Linked DNA regions of Homo sapiens: region 2 is linked to region 1. Evidence: fine-mapped expression QTL. A gene starts in region 1. The other region holds a variant in brackets. All regions are shown on one strand. Distances are from middle to middle. Region 1 holds the start of CRYGN (crystallin gamma N). Region 2 overlaps WDR86 (WD repeat domain 86).

The links. PIP is the estimated chance that this variant, and not a neighbour inherited with it, causes the effect.
Region 2: its variant is fine-mapped to the expression of CRYGN in whole blood (TOPMed, PIP above 0.99).

What each region holds. Positions count from the first base shown.
Region 1 is chr7:151,437,137-151,446,335 of GRCh38, forward strand. CRYGN (crystallin gamma N) reads right to left here and starts at 3,005. Exons shown (of 4, transcript NM_144727.3): 1 at 2,761-3,005; 2 at 860-1,108. The coding sequence starts at 2,781. RefSeq lists enhancers at 573-1,422, 1,784-2,284, 2,285-2,785, 3,497-4,033.
Region 2 is chr7:151,394,201-151,403,399 of GRCh38, forward strand. It overlaps WDR86 (WD repeat domain 86), which reads right to left. Exons shown (of 6, transcript NM_198285.3): 2 at 5,900-6,041; 3 at 1,576-1,996. Among named protein-coding and RNA genes, the nearest start is that of WDR86-AS1, 10 kb to the right of the region's middle. The variant G/A (reference allele first, on the strand shown) is at 3,845.

The DNA of each region.
Region 1 (9,199 bases):
GAGATGCCAAAGCCCAGCTGGTTTTGCAACTGATACAGAAAAGAGAGGGGGCACCACACAAAGGCCCCTTTACTGGGGTTCCTCAGATGTTCACCAGAACCACCCAGCCCAGGCGTCGGGGGAGGGTCCTCAGCAGACATAAGCGAGACGCTCTGTGATGAGAGATGCACGCCCCCAGGCTCAGGAGTCCGCCACTCCCCACCTGAAGCTCCAGAGCTCACAGCAGGTCAGTGAGTACCCATGACCTGGGGGAACGGCCTTGCTTAAATCCCACCCTAGGAGCAGCTGGACCGAAACAGTCTTTCGCCACCGGGGAGCCATGCCCCTCGTCTGCCCTCCCTGCACACACCTCTTGGGCGGCAGCTACCTGTGTAATTCCAAGGGACCTGCCCCCCAATTTTCCCCTGACAGGCGGGTGATTCTTCAGCTTCCTCCATCAGCCATTCCAAGACATGGAAGGCTCCAGAATGTGCCACAAGACCACCTGTACTAGTGGCCACACTAGGCCCAAATCAGCCTCCCATTGGCGGAGTGTCCCCTATCTGGCTGGAAATCTAAATTTGGATGATTTCAACAGCATTTTAAATGGAAAATGCAGCTAGATTTTTGGCTCCGAAACTTAAAGTGGTTTATTGATACCTGTATGAAAACTCAGGGCCACTCCCACTCAGTTCATAGCAACTTGGCCCCCCACCTACTCACCTCATGCCAGCAGGTGGCTCTGGGTATAGCTCCTTCAGTCTTACAGACTTTAAAGCCGGGAGGACCACGCTCCCCGATTCCTTGCCACTGTCTGCCAGGGCTGACCCTCGGTCCCTCCAGCAGGAAGACTCAGCCTTCGGTGGACGGGCCCACTCACCATTCCTACAGGCCGACAGGAGCCCATGTGGTCACTGTGGCTGTTCCAGCGGAAGAAGTCGGGGTAGTCGCCGTGCTCCAAGATGAACTGCTGGCCCCGGAAGTCGGGGTGATTGAAGCAGACCCAGGCTCCGCTCTCCACGTGGATGGAGTTCACTCGGTTCATAAAGCCCCGGTCCTGGAAGTTGTCACAGTCCCCGAAGACCTCCAGCTTCTGCCCTGTGAAGTGCTTGCCTTCATAGAGAGTGATCTAGAAAGGGCAGGTTACAGAGCTCAGGGTCAGGGGCTTCTCTCCGTCAGCGTTGGAGGCTGGCGTCTGGGTCCCAACACCCTGGATGGAACCCCTACTCCCAGGCCCCCAAAAGCCCAGACCTGCTGCACACAGTAGGTGCCCAACACTATTTGCCAATTGGGCAAAAGAACGAACAGCTGGCAGGCTGATGCCATACACAGCTACTGTTCCTCCCCACCCTTAGGAGCTCACAGTGGGGCAGACAAATTTCAGCAGCGATTTGGGGACAGGGGTTTCCCCTTTGTCTAGGTGCCCATTTCAAAATGGGCTGTTTTCAACTTCCACTGCATTTTTAACTCATTTTTTAATTATTAAAACATAAAGCCGATAATAACATTAAAGGAGGTGTTTTCAAAAGAAGAAATTTCACCCACAACCCTCTCATGGTAACCCAGCATATATTTTGCAGAAATTCGGGTTCCTGGGATTGGGCCTCCTTCACTGGAGAGGCTGAATGGGCCGAAGCCGCGTCAGGGCCTGGCTCGGGATTAATGTTCGCAAAAGAGGGCTTATAAGTGCCACCCTGTCTCTCTGTGTTTTGTAGGTCACTCCTTTGGGTAGCAGGCATGTATCAGATCTGGAGCTCCATCACCCTGCTGGGAGTTCAGACATCGTGTCTTATAGCTACGTGGCACTCACAGGTTGTCCTTGTCCCGAAACAAAACAAAGTGAAGCAATAACAACCCGCCAGACTCATTTCCTGCTGTGGAACCTAAAATCTCAACCATTTAGTAACTCTTTGGGTTTCAAGAACTGTGGCCCTAGAAGGGTCCTGCCAGAGTGCAGTGATGTTCCCCATCACTATGGTCGCTTGTGCCTCACCAGTGTCTCCAGTTCGCTCAAAAGAACACGAGAATTGCCCTTCCAGGCCCCTTGGAGTCAGGCGTGGCCACATGCGTTCACCGGAAAGGAGGCAGACACCTTGGCGTTCTGCACCCCAGAGTTACTGGGGCCCTTTGTTACTGAAGCATCACCTGGCCCATGCAGACTGATACAGCAACACAGTCACCCCCAGACACTCTGGAATGTGGCCTTGGAGACCAAAGGCTTCATGGGAGTGGCTAGGCTAGGGGCACTGGAGAGGGCGAGGGAGAGCCAGGTCTCCCGTCCTTCCTGCACCAGGCACGGCTGGTAGAGGGCCCCTGAAACCTTCAGGGAGGTCTGGGCACCAAAGGGATTCGGGGCTCCCTCAAATCTCAACATTTTTCAGAGAACCAGCCCTAAGTGTCCCTGAAGAGACCCTGGGAAGGAAAAGCCATAGAGGCCAGCCTTGGGCAAAGAAGCCGCAGCAGTGGGGCGGAGGGCTGTGGGACAAGCCAAGCCTCCCCCACCCCAAGGAAGCCCCAGGGAGTCTGAACACCCTCCCTGCTCCTGACTGCAGGGCGAGGGGTTGGAATCCCAGAAGGAAGGAGTGGAGATGGAGACCTTCCTATCCATCCACACCAGAGAGGCCCCAGGCCAGTAGCGAGGCCACCCCATTTTATTAAGAAATTAAACCAGCTTCCCTTGGATTTGTCACCATCAACAGTGTGCACCCTCCTGCATCCCCTAGCACAGGGGGCGAAGGCGGAGCCCCACTCGGTTTCCTTGGGGTTGAGGGACGCACTCACCTTCCCCGAGCGCTGCGCCATGGTGCGCCCCGCCCCTTCCGCGGGTCCCCGTTTACACCGGGCAGCGCCCTGCTGGCTCAGCGCCGCCCCGGACAAAAGATTTGCTGGGCCGGCCCCGGAGCGTTAGTGCTGTCGGGCGTGCTAAGCCCGAGGGGCCACCAGGCGGTTGGGACCCGCCGCGGCCACCCTGTGCCACCGCGAGTGCAGCCCGCCCTGCCCGGGGTCTCCCTGTGCTCTCCGCGTTTAGCTCCCGAGCCTCCTTCCTCCCTGAGCCCTCCCGCCCAGCCCGCGGCTGCCCCTGCCCTGCCCTGGAGTGGTGGGGGGAGGAGGGGAGGTGTCTCTCTAGCCCTCCAACCTTTCTTCCCCTGCGCTGCCCCTCAGCCCTCACGCCCATCTCCCTCCCTCCCAAGGCCTGTTCCGAGCTCCCCAGCCCACTCCCCTTTCTCACCTGGCTGCAGGTAGTCTCGCCTTGGTGCCAACTTGTTTGTCTCCACGAGGATGCAACCCAAGCTTCCCCGGACAGACAGACAGCCCTTGACCGCCCCTCCCCTGGCTGCTCTGGTCTGAGCTCCCAGGTCCCCACCTTAGACCTCCGGCTCCAACTCACCCAGCTCCTGATGCACCCCCCCACACCCCACAAAACGCCAGGCCAGGTCAGGCCTCCCTCCTCCCGCTCTCTTCCTGCCTGCCTCCCTCCCTGGCACTCTCCCTCCCTGGGTCCCTCTCTCCTTGAAGATCCTGCCTAGGGTGACCAGGTGACCCGCGCTGCCCTGAGCTGGGGGTACAGTGCTCTGCCCCTTGCCTCTCTGCTGCACCAACTAAGCCACCCTGGACGCCCAGGATCAGTTTACAGCACAAAGCAGCCCCACCGCGGAGGGAGAGTTCCCCAGGGCCCAGAACGAGCACTTGGCAGACAGCAGAGGCTCAGAGATTGTGGAGTGAGCAGAGCGAACATGGAGCCCACAGGATGTGCAGCCCCCACACGGCTGGGGAGATGAGCTGGGAACACAGGACTCATGACTCAGATGGCTGGGGTGGTGGGGGACAGGCTCTGAGATCAAAGGAGAGAGGGGCAGGTGCTCCACAGGGGCTTCTGCTGGAGGGGAGGGAGGAGCTTTGGGGAGGAGTTTGGGCTGCTCTTCCTTCAAACAGTATATTTTTATGACCATTTCACAGATGAGACACTGAGGCCCAGGAAGAGGAGGTTATGTGATTCTTGGGGCAGAGGGGTGACCTTGCCTCTGCTGTGGGAGGTTTTCAAAAGTAGACAGGGTACAAACCAGAACCTGCATGTCACCCTTGAACCCAGGGACGGTCCTCCCTAGGGACGCCCCTCCCTAGGGACGCCGCCCAGCTGCCTCCACTGGCGCCCTTACTTGCCAAGCCACACATTCCAATGTTTCTCTCTGGACCTGGGCCCTGGTGGGGACATAAAATTAAAAACAAAATCTCCAGCCAACCCAGAAAACTTCTCCACGAAGGTAGAAGGAAAAAAAAACAATTTTATTATTGAATAAACTTTAAACTGGAATGCGATCTGCATCACGATCTCTCCCCTAAGAGATCGCAAAGATGGAGAGAGATCTCACTCTTCTGTAGCCAAGCAGACACAACCCACTGCATTCATGTTTTCAGGATAAAATTGCTGATTTTCTTGTATCTCTATGACTGGAGGTGGGTTTTGCAATTTGGAGTCAGGTGACAGCTGAAGTCAGGCTTCTTAGGAAACGGGGAGGGTGGGGGCACTTACTCCTTGATGTCAAGACTCAAAGAGGCTCCCAGAGGAAACATGACTGAGTTGTTAGACTGGCAAGAGGCTTGTTTAGCCATTAAAAAGATTTACACACATTTGAAAATGACAGAGAAGGAAATTCTGCAAGAAAAGGGAGGAAAGGGAAGCCTCTTCCCTTATTTTCAACAGGGAAAAATAAGCCTTAAAAAAAGGTTTTATTTTTTAGAGCAGCTTTAGGTTCAAGTTGAATTCAGCAAAAGGTACAGCAATTTCCTGTATACCCCCTGCCCCTACACACACACACACACACACACACACACACACACACACACACACAGAGCCTCCTCCACAATCAGCGCCCCCATTAGAGTGGTACATTTGTCACAGCCGATGAACCTATGTTATACATCGGGATACAGGATGAGAAGTTGAGAGAATGCGGCGTAGACTTTGTTAAAATAACACATTTTTAAAGCCTCCCCACATAATGTGGTTGATTTTTCACAGCTTGCTACTCTTTGTCCAGTTGAGTATGTAAGTGTTTGACTCTTAACTTTTTCTTTGGGTCTTCATCTCCTTATAAGGGCTCCCATGCCACATAAAACTTGTATTAAATAAGTTTGTATGCTTTTCTCTTGTTAATCTGTCTTAGGTCAATTTATTTCTCAGGCCCAGCCAGGACCCTAAGAGGATGGAGGTAGAACTTTGCTGCCTCTACAGTGTAATGCCATGGTTCCACCATTAGAGCACCAGGTAGAGTATTCTCACCACCTTAAAAGTCCCCTGTGTGGGCTGGGCACGGCGGCTCACACCTGTAATCCCAGCACTTTGGGAGGCCGGGGCGGGTGGATCACCTAAGGTCAGGAGTTTGAGACCAGCCTGGCCAACAGGGCGAAACCCTGTCTCTACTAAAAATACAAAAACTAGCCAGGCGTGGTGGCAGGCGCCTGTAATCCTAGCTACTCAGGAGGCTGAGGCAGTGAGAATTGCTTGAACCTGGAAGGTGGAGGTTGTAGTGAGCCAAGATTGCGCCACTGCACTCCAGCCTGGACGACAGAGTTAAACTCCGTCTCAAAAAAAAAAAAAAAAAGATAAAAAAAAAAGTCCCCTGGGCTCCATCTGTTTATCCCTCTCTCCCCCTTAACTCCTGGCAACCACTGATCTTTTTACTATCTTCACGGTTTTGCCTTTTTCAGGATGTCATGTATTTGGAATCTTACAGTATGTAGCTACTACGGTTTGAACGTGTCCCCCAAAACACATGTGTTGGAAACTTAATCCCCAATGCAACAATGTTGAAAGATGCGGTCTCATGGGAAGGGTTTAGGTCATGAGGGCTTCACCCTCATTCATGGATTAACGCTGACCATAAAGGGCTACAAGGTCAACCGCTTGCTCTCTCTCACCCTCTCTTTGCCCTTCTCCCATGGGATGATACAGCAAGAAGGCCCTTGAAAGATGCCAGCACCGTGATGTTAGACTTCTCAGCCTCCAGAACTGTGAGCCAGTACATTTGTGTTCATTGTAAATTACCCAGTCTGTGGTATTCTGTTATAGCGGCACAAAACGGACTAAGACAGCAAGTAGCTTTCTCAGATTGGTTTCTTCCACTTAGTAATATGCATTTAAGATTCCCTCATATCTTTTCCTGGCCTAGTCTCTCATTTCTTTTTACTGCTGAATCATGTTCCCTTGTCTGGAAGTACCACAGTTTAGTTATCTATTCATCAATGGAAGGACATTTTGGTTGTGTCCAAGTTTTGGCAATTATGAGGAAAGCTTCTATAAACAACCACGTGTAGATTTTTGTGTGCTCCTTTCACTATACACTAAGGAGTGGGATTGCTGGATCATATGTTACAGGTATGTTTAGTTGTGCAACAAACTGAAAAAAAAATAAAAGCCAGGTGCAGAGGCTTGTACCTGTAATCCCAGCTACTCAGGAGGCTAAGGCAGGAGGATTACTTGAGGCCGGGAGTTCAAGACCAGCTTGGACAACATAGCAAGACCCTGTCTCTAAAAAATTCAAAATCAAATCAAATAAAAAGAAACTGTCAAACTCTCTTTCAAAGTGGCTATATGATTTTTCATTCTGACCATTTGGTGCTATCAAGTTTTGGATTTTAGCCATTCAAATAAGTGTGCAGTGGTGTCTCATTGTTGTTTTAAGAGCTTTTTTTTTTTTTTTTTTTTGAGATGGAGTCTTGCTCTGTCCCCCAGGCAGGAGTGCAGTGATGCGATCTCAGCTCACTGCAATCTCTGCCTCCTAGGTTCAAGCAATTCTCCTGCCTCAGCCTCCCCAGTAGCTGGGACTACAGGTGTGTGCCACCACGCCCAGCTAATTTTTTTTTTTTTTTTTTTTTTTTTTTGGAGATGGAGTCTTGTTCTGTTGCCCAGGCTGGAGTGCAGTGGCGTGATCTCAACTCACTGCAACATCCACCTCCTGGGTTCAAGCGATTCTCCTGCTTCAGCCTCCCGAGTAGCTGGGACTACAGGCACACGCCGCCAAGCCTGGCTAGTTTTTTGTATTTTAGTAGAGATGGGGTTTCACCATGTTGCCCAGGCTGATATCAAACTCCTGAGCTCAGGCAATCCGCCTGCCTTGGCCTCCCAAAGTGCTAGGATTACAGGCGTGAGCCACCGCGCCTGGCCAATTTTTGTATTTTTAGTAGAGATGGGGCTTCACCACGTTGGCCAGGCTGGTCTTGAATGCCTGACCTCAAGTGATCCGCCTGCCTTGGCCTCCCAAAGTGCTGGGATTACAGGTGTGAGCCACTGTGCCCAGCTGAACTTCTTCTTTTTAATTTGTATTTGCCCTCATCACAGCAGGGCCAGAGCACACAGACAACCCAAAAAGGTGATGACAACAGAATCCAAAACAGAAGCAGTGATTTGGGGTGTTTTCTGAGAAATATATATGAAAAAATGCCTAGCTGAAAGCCCCACGCAAAGAATTATTAAAAATGGGTAGATGAATAAGATACCTGCAAATTTCACCTCCATTCCCTATTTCTAATGCAATATCTCAATTCCCACCTGGGATTTTATTATAATTCAGTTACCAGAGGAGGAGTCTGCTAAGATTCATATTATCTATTTGTGGCCAGGTAGAACCCCTCCCCAAAATAGCTACATAATATGCAAATGCCAGTATCACCAAACCTCAACATCAGAGTCATTTTTTTGAGTCATCTTTGGTAGAGCACTGTTAAAATGTACCTTGAGGTAGGTGAGATCTTGAGTCACTATACAGCTGCTAGTTGGGGACAAAATTCTAAGGAAATGGACTGAGAATAAATATCGTGACAGCACAGAAGAAGCAAGGCTAAGAATGCTATCATGGCTTAAAAAATAAAATCTCAATAACATGTAGCCTTAGAACTACCAGTAGCTGCTCAGCATTGGAGAGTTTTACAGCGTGGAGGCTAATGGTTTTAATAATAAATCACCCTGAGCCATCACCCGTTTGCCTGCCTCCCTTCTCTGCCTCTTGTCTCTCCCGTTTTTGGGTAATTTAGAGCACAGAGAAGAATAGGAAATAATATAAGGAACAATAACACCACCATACAAAGTTTGTCAAATCTTAGCATTTTGCCAGGTTTATGTCGGATCAATGTTTTTCCTTAAAATAAGAAATCATTATACATAGAATTGAAGGCTTCCTTCCCCATAAGGATAAGATACTGTCCTGATTTTTGTGTTATGTCTTTGTGTGTTTTCATCTTTTTACTTTCTTTGTATGTATCTGTAAATAATAGAAAATTTTTAGTGTGGCTACATTATATGTAGCCTTCTGCAATTTGGTTTTTTGTTTTAGTGACAAGAGTTTCTGAAATGGTGAATGAACAAAGCTCAGTAGAATTCCTCAGAAAACTAAGTAAAATCTTCCATTTATATATCTAATAAATTGCATACCAGGAAATCTTCAGTATATATTAAAGCCACACAAAAAATACTATGCGTTTCTAGGGGAAATTGTGGGACAGTGTCTCCTTGGATGTGGTGGGATATCCAGCATCCTGGGGCCTGCCCACCCATCCTCCAGCATTCTGACAAACAGAAACACCCTACAAAATTCCAACCACACCCTGGGACCAATACTGCCTCCTTTGAGGCCCATGCCTCTGGGTGAAATTGCTGGGTTGAAGCATGAGTTCACCTTCAAGCCACTAGATGCCACAGAGGTCTTCCAAATTGCCCCACTGACATACAGATGAGATCTACCCTTGGTAGTTCCAAGGCCAGTTGCTCAACATCAGTTCAAATGTATAGCGTTCATTTGAATTGGATCTTTTGTAAATTGCTTGTTCATATGCTTTGCTCATTTTTTTCTGTCTTTCCTTATTGATTATGTGTGTGTGCCTGTGTGTGTGCAAGTGTTTCTTTGTTTTAGAGACAGAGTTTCACTCTGTCACCCAGGCCAGAGTGCAGTGCCACGATCATAGCTCAATGCAGCCCCAAACAACTGGGCTAAGGCATCCTCCTGCTTCAGCCTCCCTTGTAGCTGGGACTAAAGGCACACGCCCACACCCAGCTAGGTTTTTAAAATTTTTTGTAGAGACGGGGTCTCACTATGTTGCCCATGCTGGTCCCGAGTTCCTGGCCTCAAGGGATCCTCCTGCCTTGGCCTCCTAAAGTGCTGGGATTACAGGCATGAGGCACCATGCCTGGCTGTGTGTGTTTTAACTTGCTATCTATTCTTTTGCT
Region 2 (9,199 bases), 43 kb before region 1:
CAGGTGGGACCTGAGTTAGAGACATGGGGTTTACATGCCCCATCCAGCATCTCAGGGACCTGGGTGACCCTCCCTCCACGCGAATGTGAGCCCTTCCCTGCTCCCCTGGTCTTGGAGCCCCGGGGCCGCCTCTACCCCTACAACCCCAAATGGGGCCCCTGGCCTGGCTCTCCTATGGGGTTGAGCACAGCGAAGCCTGATCAGGGCTGCCCTGACTCCAGCCCCGTCACCCGGAGCCTGCCCCTCCCATCTTCTGCGGCTTCGCTGAGCATCAGGTGCTGGTAGCAATGCACCCCAACCGCTTGCCGCAGGGGTCGGACCTGCCCTGGAGCAGGGCAGAGGCTGGCCGAGACTGAGCCAGGAACATCTAGACCCCAGCATGGGGGATCACACCCAACAGGTCCTCCGGCCAGGCACACCGTTAGGTCCTTCACAGCAACAGCAGCAGGGATGGTCACGGTCGCGGCGGCTAAGGGCTGCCTGGCAGCACTGTTCACGCATCTTCCATTGATTCACCAAATCCCTACCACAAGCCCACGGACGGGGCAACTTCATACCATAATCCCTAATCTAAAACCTTGGGACAATGCGTTCGAGGATTTTCTGGCTTACAGACACACTCCTGCATCTGCAGGAAAGGCGTGAGAACCCCCAGGCACCGGGATGTTCGAAGCACACACAGTCACATGTCTCTTCAGGCCAGACTCTGCCACCAGGCGTTTTCGTGCCAAGCTTAAGAAAAAACTTCTCAATTTTTGGAACTTTTTGGATTTAGGAATTAAGAAGGGGCGTAATCCTCCCTGTACATGTGAGGAAACTGAGGCCCACAGAGGCTGGGTGGCTTGTCCAGGGGAGGCAACGGAGACGGGGCAGCAACCCCACGTCCCACACGGCCACACCATTACAGCGCTATGTGCTTCCTCTATCCTGGTTGTCAGCTTATAGCATGATGGGCCACTTCCCAGTCCCCAACCCATGAGGACGGAGCCCAGGAGGCTGCCGGCGTTCACCCTGACAGCACAAAGACAAACCAGGAAAACAGTCAACACCCGCTCCAGGCGCCCTGCAGGCAGGCTCCGCCCCAGCTCTGGCCCAGCATGCAGATTCAGAAGCTGAGTGTTATGGGCTGCATCATGCCCACCCCAGATTCACGTGTCGCAGCCCTACCCCACCCCTGTACCTATGAATGTGGCCTTTTTGAAAGAGGGTCTTTAAAAGAGGCAGTTGAGTTAAAATGAGTTCATAGGGGGGCCCTAATCCAGTATGACTGGTGTCCTTCTAAGAAGAGATTAGGACACACACACACACACACACACACACACACACACACACACACACGAGGACAGGGAGAAGGCAGCATCTGCAGGTTAAGGAGAGGCCTCACGGAAACCAGTACTGCGGACCCCTTATCTTGGATTCCCAGCCCCAGGACCGCAAGGCCTCCGTGGCGCTTGCCAGGCCCCCATCTGCAGCGCTTTGTTATGCAGCCGAATCACAGATACCCAGGGCAGGGCGGCAGTGCAGGGGGTGACCTGGGCTCCCCTGGCTGCTGGGCGGGGACCAGGACAGTCTCACCTCCAGACAGATGACGGAGCCCCGGTGCTCCCGGAACACCCGCAGCTGCTCCCCACTCAGGATGTCCCAGGCACGGATGGTGGCGTCGGTGCTGCCTGTGAAGGCCGTGTGGCCGGGCGTGTCTAGCACTAGGCACAGCACTGCACCCGTGTGGCCCCGCAGCGTCTGGTGGCAGCAGCCGCTGGCCACCTGCCACACCTTGGCTGTGCCATCTGTGCTGCCGGTCACCAGAAGCCCCCCGGCCGCGGCCTCCTCCGCGCAGGGAGTGCTGGGGAGGTCCCACGGGGCAGAGTAGGCTAGGGTCAGCACGCAGTTGCGGTGGCCCCGGAACTCCCGGGACATCTGCCCCTTGTCCACACTCCAGACCCGAGCTGTCCGGTCATAGGAGCTGCTGAAGAGCTGGTTGTTGGCAACCAGGATCCTGGGGGCAAGAGGGAAGGGGTCAGGGATCAGAAGGCACGGGTTCCAGAATCCACACAGCCTCCCGACATGCCATGCTCGGCACTGCAGCTAAAATAACCTCTCCCTGTGTCTGCCCAGCTTGCCACACTCGTCTTCCAAGGTCCAGCTCAAATCGCCCCCACCTCCAGGAAGCTACCCTGACTCCCCTCATGCCCACCCTTCCTTGCCTGCCCCTGGGCATGTACCTGTAGCAGGGACCAAGCTTAGATGCTCCGCTGGGATCCCTCCAGCATCCCCACAGCAGCTCTGCAGGAGCAGCGGGAAGGGGATGGGGGAGGAGGTAGGGGAGCAGCGGGAAGCGGGTGGGGGGGAAGGTAGGGGAGCACGGCCCTCTCAGCTTGCCCGGAGTTGAAAAGCTTCTGGGGATTTAGGGTTTTCAGCCTAAGACTGAGAAAGTCCAGGGCAGAGTGGGACACGCTGGTCACCCTGGGAACAGGGCCGGCTCAAGTGGCTGGGCAGGGCACTTCAGATGAGGGCCCTGAGAAGCTGGAGAGCACTGGGAACTCCCATAGTGCACCCAGGGGTGCTTGTGGGAGGCACAGCCAGGGGTCACGCTACAGCCAGTGGGGGCCTCTGCTGCCAGCTCTCACAGCAATCCCCATGCAGACTGAGGTCACAGCCTCAACAGGGTTCTAGCCACATGGCTGGGAACTGGGGGTTGGGTAGCCAAGAGAGTCCATCCATTCAGTGCAACTGACCAACATGGGAGACCAAGGCCCCCACATTGTATTCACGACTCTTATTTTCATTTTGATGGAAGCCAAGAACTCCCCAGAAAAACACACATTTGTCTTTAGTGCAGAGCTTTGCACAGAACCTCAGAAGGTCTGAGCACACACCCTTGGTAAGAAGCCCTGCACCTCAGGAGAGGAGACCGCCAAGGGGTGCGGCCGTGGCTGCACTGTAACAAGGTGCATCCCTGCCGGGGTGGGACCCTCCTGAATCAGGACCACGGCCGGCCCTGCTGCTCCTCCCGTCCTCCCGCGAAGGGCTTGCTGGCCAGCCTGGCATGGACAGGAGACCCACTCGGGACAAGCCTGCTGCCTCCCGCCTCCACAGGATCCCAACAGCATTCCTCACTTCCCGCAAGCAGCTCAACGACACATGACTCCACTCAAATGCCAACTATCCCTTTCCAACTGGCTTCTTCCCTGAGACCCAGATAGGATGATTGTCACAAAACATGTATTTATTTATTTATTTTGAGACGGAGTCTCACTCTGTCGCCCAGGCTGGAGCGCAGTGGCACGATCTCGGCTCACTGCAACCTCTGCCTCCCAGGTTCAAGCGATTCTCCTGCCTCAGCCTCCCGAGTAGCTGGGATTACGTGTATTTTTAAAGGAAATGATGCCTTGATGCTGCTGCTGCAAAGTGCGGGAGGAAGAGGGTGTAGCGGGAGGAAGGGCATAGCGGGAGGAAGGGCATAGCGGGAGGAAGAGCATAGCGGGAGGAAGAGGGTGTAGTGGGAGGAAGGGCATAGCGGGAGGAAGAGGGTGTAGCGGGAGGAAGAGGGTGTAGCGGGAGGAAGAGGGCGTAGCAGGAGGAAGGGCATAGCGGGAGGAAGGGCATAGCGGGAGGAAGAGGGTGTAGCGGGAGGAAGGGCATAGCGGGAGGAAGGGTGTAGCGGGAGGCCTTGGGGTATGGAGGGGGTGGCTGAGTCCTGCCTGGTGTGAGAAGGCAGGGATGCCAGGCCACTGAACGATCGGTGACCCCAAAGCTCACAGGCCTGACCTGGCTCTGAAAACTCGGGAGGAAGTGAGTTCCTGATTTATGAGGACAGTTACTTAATCATGCAAATATCTACACA[G/A]AGCTATGGGTTTGGAGCTGTGACCGATCCAAAATAGTGTGTGTGTTTGTATATGTTGTGAGCACATGTGAACATGTGTGCATATGTGTATATGTGCATGTGTGTTGTGTGCACAATGTGTGCCTGCATGTACTTTGTGTGTATATGTGTATGTTTTGTTGCTTGTGTAAGTTGTGTGTCTATGTGTGTGCATGTGTGTGTTGTGTGTGCATATGTGTGTGTAAGTTGTGTGTATGGGTGCATATGTATGTTGTGTGTATGTGTGTAAGTTGCATGTGCATGTGTAAGTTGTGTATGAGTGCATATGTATGTTGTGTATGTGTGCACATGTGTATGTGTAAGTTGTGTGTATGGGTGTATATGTATGTTGTGCGTGTGTGCACATGTGTAAGTTGTGTATGAGTGTATGTGTGTGCACATGTGTATGTGTAAGGTGTGTATGTGTATATGTGTGCGCACGTGTGTATGTGTAAGTTTGTGTATGAGTGTGTATGTATGTTGTGTATGCACGTGTATATGTGTAAGTTGTTTGTATGGTGTATGTGTATATGTATGTGTGCGCACGTGTGTATGTGTAAGTTTGTGTATGAGTGTGTATGTATGTTGTGTATGCACGTGTATATGTGTAAGTTGTGTGTATGGTGTATATGTATGTTGTGTGTGTGCGCACATGTGTATGTGTAAGTTGTGTGTGCACATGTGAGAGTAAATCTGGCCGAGCATGATTTCTACCTTTAATGTTCCAGTTTTGCTTTTGAGAAGCATCTGACAGTTGTGGGTTTGGCAGCTGAGGGCCCACTGGTCACTGCAGGCAGGCCTTCTCCCCGCTGAGCCCATTGCAGCCTCTGCCTGACTCACAGGAGGGCGCTCCCCCAGCCCTACTCTCTTCTTTCATGGCAAACTTCTTTCTCAGGGAAGTCAGAGTGCTGGGAAGAGGCCAGTGGAGCTGTGAGCCCTGAGTTCTCACTCTAGCCCCTTCTTTACCACCTTGTGGGCTGCCTGGGCAGGTCTCAGGGCCTCACCTGCTTCAGCTGAGGAAGGCCGGGGCCAGACGGCCACCCTACCTTGTGTCTGCATATACCCCCCATTCACTCTAAAAAGTCCCCGCATCCCTTCAGCCTCCTCCTCAGGGTGTCACCCAGCTCCCCGTCCATCGACTATCGATTATTATTCCTGGCTGCAGCCACCTGCGACTCCAGCGAGCTGGGCTGATGGGTCTCACTGCCTTTCCTGTCCCCCCATGCGCTGGTCCACTGACTGGGGGTTCCTGTCAGAGCTCAACCAACAGCATTCCTCTGGTGGGGTTCATCCTGTCTGGTCTGCGCCCCCAGCCCCACCTTCAGGACCCCCTCGTGCCAGCCTGCGCCAGCCCTGTCTTTACTTGGGTCACCCTCCAGGCAGCGCCCCTCCTCCAGTGCAGCTGCCAGGCCCAGGGGCGCCAGGAGGCCTCCCTCGGGAGTCCGAGGTGACCACCACAAGTGACTCCAACAGTGTCCAACTGATCTGATCAGCAAAGGAATTTCCATTGCTCAGCTCAGACCCAAATTCATTGAGAAAGGAACAATTCCAACCTTCTTGAGAAGGAGGGGCTGGGATATTTTCCACAGCTACAAAGAAAGGAGAGGCTTAAAAATATCCTCAACTCCGTCTTCGGAACAATCCCCCACACTCCTCCTCCTGCAAACCTTTGGTCCACCATCGGGTCTCAATTAAGCCATTTCCTATGGAATTTGTCCCCATCCCTACGAGCTGTAGGCTCTGGTGCTTTTCCCTGCACCCAGCGGGGAGCCACTGTGCCCCCAAGGGGGAAGCATCAGGCTCTGTTCAGTGGATGGGCAGTGCCTCCCTGCCCCACATGCAGCCGCAGGCACTGAGCTCGCTGCCTGTCCTGGGTCCACGTCGCTGGGTGCTACTGACCACCTCCCAGCTGTCCACGTTTTTGCTTCCCCAGAGAGCCAAGGGCCCTCACGTGCAGGGGCCCATATCTCTGACCCCTCAGCCCCACCAGAAGCCTATGTATGGTGAGACTCAGCCCAAGCCCCCAGCCAGGCTGACCTGTTCACGATGGACGTGTGTCCTCGGTACACCTGCAGACACTGCCCGGTCAGCACGTCCCACCTCCTGATGGTGCAGTCGGCGCTGCATGTGAAGGCAGCCTCATCCTCCAGCTGGCAGAAGGTCACATAGCTTTCATGTCCTGCAGATGAGGGACAGGGGAGATGTGAGCGTACTGGGGATGCCAGCTCCTGCTTTTCTTCTGGGAACAATGTTTGAAAAGGGAAGAAAGCAGGATGTAGGGAGTGTTTGAGACAAGCTGGAGTCAATTAGCATTAGTTTTGTTTTGTTTTGTTTTTTTGAGACAGAGTCTCACTCTGTCACAAGGCTGGAGTACAGTGGCGCGATCTGGGCTCACTGCAACCTCTGCCTCCCGGGTTCAAGTGATTCTCCTGCCTCAGCCTCCTGAGTAGCTGAGATTACAGGCGCATACCACTATACCTGGCTAATTCTTTGTATTTTTAGTAGAGATGGGGTTTCGCCATGTTAGTCAGGCTGGTCTCGAACTCCTGACCTCAAGTGATCTGCCTGCCTTGGCCTCCCAAAGTGCTGGAATTACAGGCGTGAGCCACTGCGCCCAGCCCTCAACTCATCCTTCTTAAAGAATGACTTCAGTCTGAGTGATTCTCAGAAAGCACGGGGTACCAGTGAGGCACGACAGATAGTCAGGGAAGTAACCATGTCCTCAGGACGCAGCAACCATGGCGACTGCGCCGTCAACACAATAAGCCCCAGCATTCGCACTGCAGGCAAGCTCATTCAAGCAAAGCTATCTTCAGTAGGGACTTTCCCCTGTAGAGAGCACGTGCACTTTGATTTTTACCGGTCCTCACAGTGACCCTTTGCTCATTACAATAGTAAAAAACACACCCCTGGATGGAGATTTAAGATGCCAGTGAGACATGTGACGTATGAACAGGGATGCACAGCCACTGTGCATGAGCACCCAGAACATGCTTCCCAGCAACCCCCTTGCCCACCTGCTCATGAATAATCAGGTAAGACTCCTAAAAAGGGATCCTCCCTCCAGCCGGTCTTTGCTCTCTCATCCTCACAGGCAGCCTACCCTGACTCCCCTCTTGGGGCGTCCTGCCTATTCTGCACCTAACTTTCAGGGTATTCTTCCTCCTGTGCAATACATTGCTCTATGCTGCATCTCCTTTGCTGTGTGTCTCCTGTTTCAATTCTGTTAAACTAAGAAGACAAGAACTGAGGTTTCACAGCAGCCATCAACAGCAGGAGCAATCCAGGGGCACTCGCCTGCACCCTAAACCCTCTGTTTCCTCAGCTTCCACTCTTGCCTTCCTCCCTCCTCTCCTTCCCTCCTCATTTCTTTATCATCTCCTTTTAGTCTTTTTCAAACCTTTCAGCTTTTGCATTCCACATTTCCTCACCTGGGATGGGGACAATGCCTGCCTCACGGGATGTAGCGCAGACTGAGGACAGAGGCAGCCGCAGAGGGAATGGCACATGTTCGCTATTTTCCTTACACTGGGGAGAGATACTGTGGTAGGCAGAATGACGGCCCCAAGACAGCAGGTCCTAATCCCTGGAACCTGTCAATGTGACCTTACTTGGAAAGGGGTCTTTGTGGATGTGACGAGGTAAAGACTTTGACTGGGGAGATTATCCTAGATTATCCGGGGGGTCCTAAATACAACCGCAAGTGGCCAGGCGCGGTGGCTCACGCCTGTAATTCCAGCACTTTGGGAGGCCGAGGCGGGTGGATCACAAGGTCAGGAGTTCAAGATCAGCCTGGCTAAGATGGTGAAACCCCGTCTCTACTAAAAATACAAAAAATTAGCCGGGCGTGGTGGTGGGCGCCTGTAATCCCAGCTACTCGGGAGGCTGAGGCAGAGAACTGCTTGAACCCGGAAGGCGGAGGCTGCAGTGAGCTGAGGTTGCACCACTGCACTCCAGCCTGGGTGACAGAGCAAAACTCTGCCTCAAAAAAAAAAAAAAAAAAAAAAAATATATATATATATATATATATCTCCACAAATGTCCTTACAAGAGAGAGGCCAGGGAGATGTGATATACTCGGAAGAGGAGGCCGTGAAGGTGAAGGCAGAGATGGATGTGGCCACGAGCGCAGGAATGCCAGCAGCCACTAGGGCTGGAAGAGGCCAGGAACCGACCGTTCCCTGCAGGGTTTAGATGTGGCCCTGCTGACACCCTGCTTTCATCCCAGGGACGCTCATTTCAGCCCTCTGGGTTCCAGCACTGTGAAGAATCAACTTCACTTGTTTCCAGGCACCAAGCATCCTCCTTTGTCACAGCAGCCCCAGGACACTAACATAGACACAGAGACAATGAAACACAGCCTTGCCCTCCAAGGGAGCTCCAGGCCCAGAAGGGAAGACAGTCAAGGGCAGCATGTGGTCAGCAGGGCTCGGCACCCCACTGGCAGCGGCTGGCTGGGGCTCGGGAGAGAAGCCTGAGCACTGGAGACCAGGAAGAGGGTGACTCGGTGCCCGTAGGGAGAACAGCGGCTAGGAAAGCAGGCGTGCAGGGACTGGCTCCATGGGGCACCTCCAGGCCAGAGTCTGAGTGATCGGTAGAGATGACTGATGAGGCCGGGATGTGGCCAGAATGGAGGGCCAAGAGTGGAGGGCCATGCCAGGGTGTCTGGGGTCTCAGCACCTGAGCTACCCCACCAGCTGGTTGGGACTCTATCTCATGGGTGCAGTTAGATAGCTTGACTATCACCCTGGCTGCCAGATCAATGTTTATGCCTCAGGCATTGCTTAGCAGCCCTGGGGGCCCTCAGGGTCTCTGATCTTAGTAGGGCCTGCCCTTCAGGTAAAGATGGTGTGTATACAGTTGTCCCCCAATATATACAGTTGCCCCCAATACCCATCAGGGATTAGTTCCAGGATCCCCTGCAGATACCAAACTCCACAACGCTCAGGTCCCTGTGGTGTAGTATTTGCCCATAACCTATGCAATCCTCCTGCATACTTCAGTTCATCTCTAGGTTACTTATGACACCCACTGCGATGGCTACACATCGCTTCACTTGTGTGGATTCAGTGTAGGACTTGGTGAGCAGGGAAGCCAAATTTTGCTTTTTGGAGCCTTGTGGAATTTTTTTTCCTGGATGTTTTTCATCTGTGGTTAGACGAACCCACAGGTGCAGAACGTGTTGGGCAGGAAGGCCCACTGGATTTGAGGAACTCGGGGACCAGGAAGTCAAATCAAAAGACTGTTAGAACTAAGAGCCATTTTACAGATGAGACAATGGACAAATTCAAACATCCACACATTTGGGGGACATACTTATTACATTAAGAATTTTGA